2 separate regions of the Homo sapiens genome follow, and region 2 is linked to region 1. Evidence: fine-mapped expression QTL. A gene starts in region 1. The other region holds a variant in brackets. All regions are shown on one strand. Distances are between the middles of the regions.

Region 1 (4,396 bases):
CTACATTTTTCGTTTTTCATTTTCCCTGGTAAAACGTTTAAAAACAATCATAGTATTTCTCAGTGCATTTTGTTAGAACTAAGAGTGCCTATGCAAACACTTAAGTAATGCTGCGGGTGCAGCCTCTCAAGCACCCAAACCCTAAAGAGAACGTCTCTGTCTCTGCGCCTAGCCCTTTATGCGGAACTTGAGGACACCTGGTTCTTCATTCCTCAGAGTTGGCCACCTTTCTCTGGTGTCCAGGCCAGACTTCCTCATTCAGTTCCTGTAGCAGTCTGCTAATGCATTGGGTGGATCGGCCCTAGGCCGCTTTTGGCTAAAAACACCCAGGGGCGCCCAGGCCGGAACTAAGGAAGCAGGGTGAAGACCAGGCGTCTTGAGCACACCAGAGGCTCTCTCTGCGGCTTGCTGTAGCGTGGCCCGCGGGGCCACCACTGTGCCCGGACCCTGTTTCCAATTGTTTCTATGTGCAGTTTGATTTGTATGTCTATTCTTTGAGAGTCTGAAATAGGCAACGTTTTGTGAAAATCATAGAATGCTGGAGGGCCCCCCGGTTCCACGATTTCCAAATTTGAAGACAAAAATGGTAACCAGCAACTACTGACATAGAAAGCAACCAGCCTCATTTGAGAACTTACAGCTAAGTTCAGACTCTTGCAACCTCGAGGAGAAGAGGGAGTATCTGTACATATCTGGCCACATGTCACCTGGGATGAACAGGGTGACCGGTCTGTTACAGACTTGGGGGCATGGGGATACAATTGCAGTCTCTTTTTAAGGCACTAGCGAAGCGAGATTTTCATGGGTCGCGAGGTTGGTCGGTGAGGATGGGGAAGGGAAACTGGACTTTTCTGGGCGTTTAAGAGCCAATAGGGAGAGCTCCTCTAAGGTGACACTGGCCTCCGCACTGAAGCTCGCGCCTCCCGGATGCAGCTCGCCTGTGCGGGATCATGCGGGGCTGGATTTCAGGTTTCACCCTTAAAGGACATTCCCTTTGCTTGGCCCGAGTTTTCCCAAGCCAGCCGGGCTTTTGACTCTGCCAGTCTCAAACCCATTTGCGGTAGAGGCAACAGCAGGGGGCAGAGAGCAGCTCCAGCGTCTGGGGCCGGGCGTTCTCTCGGGGCCTCCCGGTCGCGCCCGGCCTTACGGTGCCCGCGTGGAGAGTGCAGCCTGAGCAGCGCCAAGTCCTGCTCCCTGTGCCTGGTGCCCTCCCTCAAGCCGTCATACGCTGCCCGAGAGAAGCCCTTCCAACCCGACTCAGCATCTTTAACCTGCTGCTTTCCCAAACAGCGCTGGCTCTCTGAGTTTGCACCCCGCTAAGACCTTTTCCCAGCCCAGCCCCGCCGCCCCGCGTGCGGGATGAACCGAGCCGGTGCCTAGCCGAAGTAAAGAGAGTCCGCCGCGGACAGAGTCCCTGCCTGAGACCGCAGGGCCTCGGAGTGTCCCCGGACCTTGGAGCCTCTCTCCAGCGTCCTCCTTGGCTATGCCCTCGGCCGAGACCCGCTTTTCTCATCTGGTTTCCCCTGTGACTGGCCCTTCCTTTGAAGTCTGCCATCACCTCTCCTGGTCCCAGGACCTTGTCTTTCTGGCCGCGGACGGGCTCTAGCTGCCCTACACGGGTCCCCGCCCTCTGTCCCGGGCACACACCCCCGTGGGCATGCGCCCCTCACTCACTGTCCTGCTGCGGGGTGTCGCTGCCGCTGGTGAGTCCCGGCGACTCCAGCAGGCTCCGGCCAGCCTCGCCCACGTTCTCATCCGCCTGTGCCGCCACCATGTCCCCGGCTTCCTCCAGGTCTAGCAGGTGACTGACGGAGAAGTTCTTTTTCGCCTGCAGGGTGTCGAGGTTGCCCGGGCTGTCCAAGCGGCCGCCCAGCGCCGGTTGCCGCTCCAGAACGTGCCCGTAGCTGGAGGTCATGGTCTCCCCCACCGATCCCACCCACCCCCCTCTTCCCGCTCGAATCAACACCAAACGCTGTGGGCGCGAGGGGGGAGAGGAGCCGAGTGGGGAAGAAAGAGGGGGGTAGTGGAGAGAGAGAGAGAGAGAGGGAGGAAGAGGGAGGGAAGGAGAGGAAGGCCAAAAAAAAAAAATTGGAAAAGAGGGTGGGGGACCCCCTTCTGTAGAGCAGAGCGTTGTGCACCAGCCGCCTTCCGCAGCATTGGTTGATTTCCTGAGGCCAAGTCCGGCGCGGTCCAAAGAGATAATCCACAGTAAAATACAATATTAAAAAGTCACCCTATGTTCAAGTCAGGAGAAAAAAATCCCTTCCAACTCTCCAAAAGTGTCCACACGCACAGACTAAAAATAATAACAAGGGGGAGAGAGGAAAGCGGAGGCCAGCAGGGCGGGGGAGTTAGGCAAACAGAAGAAGAGAGAAGAAGGGGTGGGAGAGAAGAATCAAAGTGAATGGTTTTTTTAAAGGTTAAAAAAGTTATTCCCAGGCAAGAGTTCAAGCACCAACAGAAGAAGGCTTGTTCCAGCTTTAAAACATCTTCAAGAAAACGTGTTCCCCCCTCTCTGCACTCCTGTGGATTCTCAGGAGTGACTAAAGTTTCAGGAGGAGAGGGTGATGTCTTGCAGATGTATTAGAGAGCAGGATTCTCACTTTACTTTTTGTAAAGAGTAAAAAAAAAAATTAAGAATTAAAAAAAAAAGGCTTCAAGAGTCCGACGGAGGGTGCTGGTGGGTTCCCCCCTTTCCCCTTCTCTCTCTCCCCCTCTTCTTGCTGGGCTCCTTTTTCCTTCTCAGTTGGATCAAGAAGCTCTCTGGCACTTCAAAAGGCACAAACTGGCATGCAGAGGAGGCTTTGTAGGGAATACAAGAAAATTGGAGACCCCTGGGAGGGCAGATCTCGACTTAATAGGAGCCTGTAATTACGTGGCAAAGCCTTTGTGCTGTGCCTGACGTTTCACAGACCCCCTTTCTCCATCACAATCTCCTTCTTCCTCCTTTCCCTGGGACCAAAAAACAGTCTGATTAAGAAAACCCCCTTTGCCAACATCAGAGTTAGAGAGAAAGGGAGAGGGAGGGAACAAGAGAGAGGGAGGGAGAGAGGGAGGGAGGGAGGGAGGAAGGGAGAGAGAGAGAGAGAGAAAGAGAGAAGAGAAATGAGAGAGGGAAGAGAGCAAGAGAGCCCCTTTGGATTTCTAAAGGTCTAATTATCATTCCCCTGCAATAATATCACGGGGAGAAAAGACAAACTGAAACTCACAGTCACTTCAAACGTGCTGATTATTTTGCTTCGGCATTAACTCCTCCAGATTTGTTTAAGATCCTGTTGGAAAATCTCATTTGCATGTTTTGATAACAGCTGTGGGGAAATTTGGAAAAAATCCACCACCATCACAATCAAATTTTCTTCTCCTTCTGCCTTCCCCCAAACCGCCCCCCCCCAAAAAAAAATTTTCTGCTGTTCTAACAGTTTGGGGCGGAGTACAGGGAGAAAGTAAGCATATTAAGGCTATTTTTGGTTCCGTAGAGGGAGCCTATTAAATAATGTAATAAAAATAACAAAAGGGATGATAATAGGAAGTTCTCTCACGCCTCTCGCAAGGACTAAAGGCAGGTTGGGGAGATCCAGAGGGCACCGAGTTTATTTGAGGCTTTCCCCGCCATTAGGCATACCAGGACTAGGGCAATGAGAAAAGTACGTGTTTATTAAACTGGAAGAAAGGACTCCAAATATATATTATAATCTTTCTCCCTACCCCCGCCAATTTTGTAACTTCTACGGTAAGGCCAAAGTTGCTTCCCCAGGCGAGGACGCTAAACCCAGAGGGTCCCGCTGCCCAGATTCCTTGAAGCAGGCAGGAGCACTCCCAGAGGCAGGAGTTGGGGAGGCTTCCGTGCGGTTCTGCGTCCAGCCTGGCTGTGGTGGCAGGAGGACAGAGAGGGGCGGAGGAACCCCCATCTAAGTCTACGGATAATCCTCTGTCGTCCGTCTGCGGAGCCCTAACCTGACAGAAGACAGAGAGGTGCTGAGCAGTTTTTTCATGACCTGTTGGAATTTGGTAACAGCTTTAACAGTCTCATTAGAAATGAGTTACTGTATGACGACTCAGTAAAATATTAAGTGCTTATTTGTGGCGTTTTATGTTCTTTAAACGCGCACTCACACACACACACACGCATCCGTACTCCCGCACTCCCTTGATTGCTAGACTTTTTTTTTTTTTCGTCCTATAGTCAAGAGGCTCGACTGGAGAGAAAGAAGGGTACGAGTGTGTGTAAATGGTTTCTGGGCTCCAAACGGCCATAGTTAGCCCAGAACTTCCAGCCCTGATCTGGGAAAAGAACATTTGATGCCATCAAAGGGCTGTAGATTGAAACCAGATGTGCTCGCCTCGGTTCTTTCCATGCATTTAATTAAGGAACTGGGATGGAGGAGACTTTTTCATC
Region 2 (4,396 bases), 41 kb after region 1:
AACTCCCGACCTCAGGGGATCCGCCTGTCTTGGCCTCCCAAAGTGCTGGGATTACAGGCGTGAGCCACCGTGCCTGGCCTTTGTTTTTGTTTTTCTGTAGACAAATCAGGTTTATTGAAGAATAGTGGATTATAATAACAAAAGCACTAGGTAACATTTATTGACTGTTACCTTATTCCAGGCTCTGTTCTAAATAGCTTACCTTTATTAATTTGTTTAAGCCTCACAATCTGCTGCAAGACTCAGCATGGTTAAGTAACTTGTCCAAAGTCATTCAGCTCAGTGGCAGAGCTGGGTAGGATGTGACGTAGTGGCACTTGTGTTTAGAATTACCTTTCTGATAGCCATGTAAAAGATGAAGAGGTTGGTGATAAACTCAGGCAATGGTCATGGGGATGGGGAGGAGGGGCAGATAGTCAGAAAGTAGAATTGACAGAATTGATGATCAAACAGTCGTGTGAGGGCTAGGAGAGGAAGATCTAGGATGACTTTGAGGTTCTTGGCTTGGGAAAATGGAAAGAGATGATGTCACCGTTCCAAAAACAGGGAATATTGGGAGGAAAACAGTTCTGAGAATATTTCATTCACTCATTGATTCATACATTCATCTCTTCAGTCAATATTGTCTGCCTATCCTAGATTAGGCAATCTGTTAAGTGTTGGATATACAATGTTAAGCAAAATAGACAAAATTGTCATATAGCCTGCAGTCTAAGAACAAAGTCAATTTCTGAAAACATTAAAGCTTCCATAGGCCATCAAGCTAGGCATTTCTACAAGAAGCCTTGTAGATAGCTTTCAAAATTCCTGTTGATCCTCTAAAATTTACTGGAGACCCAGCCTTTTCCTGGACCCACAGCCATGTCCAGTCCAGGATCAGGCCCTGAAATGTGTCTTAGATTCCATGCACATTCACTCTGGTCTGAAGTCAACACACATAGCCAGAGGTAGGGTGGCTCCTAGGCTTTGACCAGTACACCTGCAGCAAGCCAGCCTTGGGAGAAAGAAGATTCTATCTTTAAGGGAATATGTCCAAGGGGGCAGATTATGTGTTTAGCTTCAAGAGAAATCTGAATTGGAGGTAGACATGTGAAGGTCGTCAGCATGTATATGGTAGATTAGGCCACTCATGTGAATGACTTTGATAAGAACCGACAGCTGAAGACAGTGCTTGCAGTAGCATTAGGAACAGGTGTCCACAGAAGACTTAGAAGAAAAACCTGGATAGGGAGCAGGAAAACCACTAGAATAGTGTCACAGATTCCCAAGGAGAGGAGAGCTTTAAGAAGACAGTAATGAGTAGAATAAAATGCCCCTGAGTGATATGTAAAGCATGAGCTGACAGTGTCCTGAATATGGGTTCATTTGTACTGACCTTCATCCATTTATATATTAAGAGTCTTTGCTGGGGATTTTGGTATTGACGCAATAGATTCCATCATTATAATGAACTCTTGGGCCAACATTACCCAAGCTCTAGACTGCTTTTGGGCTTGAGGGTATTGTAATGATGGTTAAATTTATAAAGTATTCTTCCAGGATGATTTGTTCAAATCAGATATCTTAGAAACATATTTGCTGGAGTCTTCAATTTTTTATTTTTCTTCTATCACTTTGAGTTGTGATAATAGCCAAAAAGTATAGAAAACAAGATTTTTTTCTTTGGATAGTTGATCTATTAAGGTGGAGTTTTAGTTTGCAACAAATCCAAATTATTGTCAGCTTGGTTATACATTTTAATTTAAAACGTGGTTTATCTGGTCTTTTCACTCTACCATAATAGAATTTTGGCCTCAAAATTAATTTGGCATCCTTTTTGTATAGGGTAGCATTTAGCATTCAGGCAGAGCACAGTGGACATGTTCTGTCTTTGCTTCATAGTATATGTGGACTCAGCTAAAGAGACTTAAATGACTGGGAGTGACTTGAACAATTGAGAGACAGAATCATTTAGAGGCTTCTTCCATGTCTGGGAACTGGTCAGGAATAAATCAGAGCCTGGGCTAAGCAGGGACTGTCACCTAGAACTCCTACATGTGACTATGTGATCTGCATGTTGCCATGTGACCTCTCCATATGGCTTGGGTTTCCTCACAGTATGGTGGCCTCAGGATATGCTGTTGGACTTATCACATCATGACTCAGGATTCCATGAGCAAGTGTTCCAGCAAACACGGTGCAAATTGCATGACTTTTTATGACTCAGTCTCAAAAATCCTGTGGCACCACAAACTCACCCAAATCAAGAATGAGTACACAAATCGGACCTCTTTATGGGAGAAATGACAAATAATTTACAGTCATGTTTTAAAACTGCCATACTTATCAAAGGTGCTCTGATAACGAAATTACAACAAAAATAATTAATGAAGATTGACTAGCTACATATTATGATGTGAGAACGGTATAGAACCTTAGTTAGAAAGACTTGTGCTGGGTTTCCAAAAATAAGAAATCATGCAAAGAACATTATCTGGATTCATTTTTGCATTCAAAAATTATTGAAAATACTGTGGTGAAAA[G/T]ACAAAGTTCTTGCTCTCATAAAGTTTACATTCTTGTAGGAGGATGGAATGGAGGGAAACAGATAATAAAGAAGTCATAAAATACATTAATAAGATGATCTATGATAGAAATATATGTCTGAAGAAAACAAATTCATTTATTAAAGATTTAGCATTTAAGAGAAATTTCAATGCTAGACCAAAGGATCTAGCTTATCACAATCATGAAAGCATGGGATATAAATTATATAAGATCCAGAGAATCTACACAAGAAGGAAAAAGATGAGATGACAAAGGTTGAGTGCTGAACAACATTTTCAGGAAGCACAGAATATAAAAACTTGGATATGCAAGTTCAAATGTCATACAAAAGATTGGATTTGAGGCCAAAGAAAAACAGAGCCAAGGGCTAGAAGCAAGGTATAACTGAAGTTGAACAAGAATGAGGTTGATAGAAAAGCACAGTGAAGTTGCTGTAATATTTCCTTTTTGGCATCAACTATGTATAGTGGATGAGGCTGATTTAAGGAATTGAGGTGAGATGTGCCATTATATACAGCAGTCTATAAATCATTAAAGAGACATAGTAGAGAGAAGTTATTTGCAAGGCATATAATTGTCAAAGAAATGACATTTAGAATATATTATAAACTGCTAGAAATTAATTTCACAAAGTCAAACAATCCAGTGGGAAAAATGGGCAAAAGATATGAAAAGAGAAATCACAGTAAAGGAAATCAATCTCCCTATAATCAAGGAAATGCAAAATAAAAAGTACAACAATGAAAAGTAATAATAGTGAACTATCATTAAATGGCATCCCACACATATACATATGTAGACTAGTTTTAGTGGTTACAATAATTAGAAGATATATATATATGTATATACTATCTTGGATAAATGTTAATAACTATGGTAGGGTAAAATCATACAAAAATGTAAAACAACATAATATTATCTAAGTAAAATTTTAAAATGTGCAAACGATACTACATAATGATTGCTGATACATCTACAGGTAGTAAGGTATAAAAACAACAACAAAATACACACCAATTTCAGGTACTAACATGGAGAGAAAAAAGGAAATGGAATTGCAGGAGAGGATTGTCTTCTATTGTACCCTTCAAATATTAATATATCTGCTATGTCTTCTTTCTTACAAAGAAGGTCTTTTTTTGTGTGTGTGTCAGATGGAGTTTCACTCTGCCACCTAGGCTGAAGGGCAGTGGTGTGATCTTGGCTCACTGCAACCTCCACACTCCAGGTTCAAGCGATTCTCCTGCTTCAGCCTCCCAAGTAGCTGGGATTACAGGCGCCTGCCACCAGGCCCCGCTAATTTTTGTGTTTTTAGTGGAGATGGGGTTTCACCATGTTGGCCAGGCTGGTCTCAAACTCCTGACATCAAGTGATCCGCCTGCCTTGGCCTCCCAAAGTGCTGGGATTACAGGTGTGAGCCACCGCGCCCAGCAACAAAAAATTAGATCTAAAGCGAATATGATAAGATACTAAACCATGTAAAATATGGCTGGTGATAGTGTACTATTTTCTGTTGTTTGAAATATTTTACAATCACCTCTTTTTTAAATATTAGAAACATAAAGCATATGGGTTATTAATATGTAATTCTTTTTTGTGAGACAACTGGGAAAAGCCACTTGTCAGATCTGGCCAAGGAAGATGTGTCTGTCCTTATCCAGTTTGGGTCATATTCTCCTCCAGTAAGACCTTTCCTGTATCAAATAAAAGTCTTGTCCTATACCTTGTTATTTAAATTTTTACTTCTATATGTCAGAATTTTAATACTGATTACAGAAAATTCTTGGTTTCTCCATTTTAAATATTCCAAAGTTCATACAGTAAATTCAGAGTTTTTTTTTTCATTTTTAAT

Alleles and levels. Positions count from the first base shown, and alleles are read on the strand shown. Sizes are in standard deviations (SD) of each study's normalised expression.
For the expression in cerebral cortex of the gene that starts at base 2,003 in region 1, G is the high allele of the variant in region 2 and T is the other (moderate effect, 0.49 SD a copy in GTEx).

The links. PIP is the estimated chance that this variant, and not a neighbour inherited with it, causes the effect. A credible set is the group of variants that fine-mapping cannot tell apart.
Region 2: its variant is the best candidate, but not a certain one, in a credible set for the expression of PRRX1 in cerebral cortex (GTEx, PIP 0.71).

What each region holds. Positions count from the first base shown.
Region 1 is chr1:170,661,738-170,666,133 of GRCh38, reverse strand. It overlaps PRRX1 (paired related homeobox 1), which reads right to left and starts at 2,003. Exons shown (of 4, transcript NM_022716.4): 1 at 1,675-2,003. The coding sequence starts at 1,915. RefSeq lists enhancers at 510-1,370, 2,571-3,098.
Region 2 is chr1:170,621,112-170,625,507 of GRCh38, reverse strand. No RefSeq gene overlaps it. Among named protein-coding and RNA genes, the nearest start is that of PRRX1, 41 kb to the left of the region's middle. The variant G/T (reference allele first, on the strand shown) is at 2,523.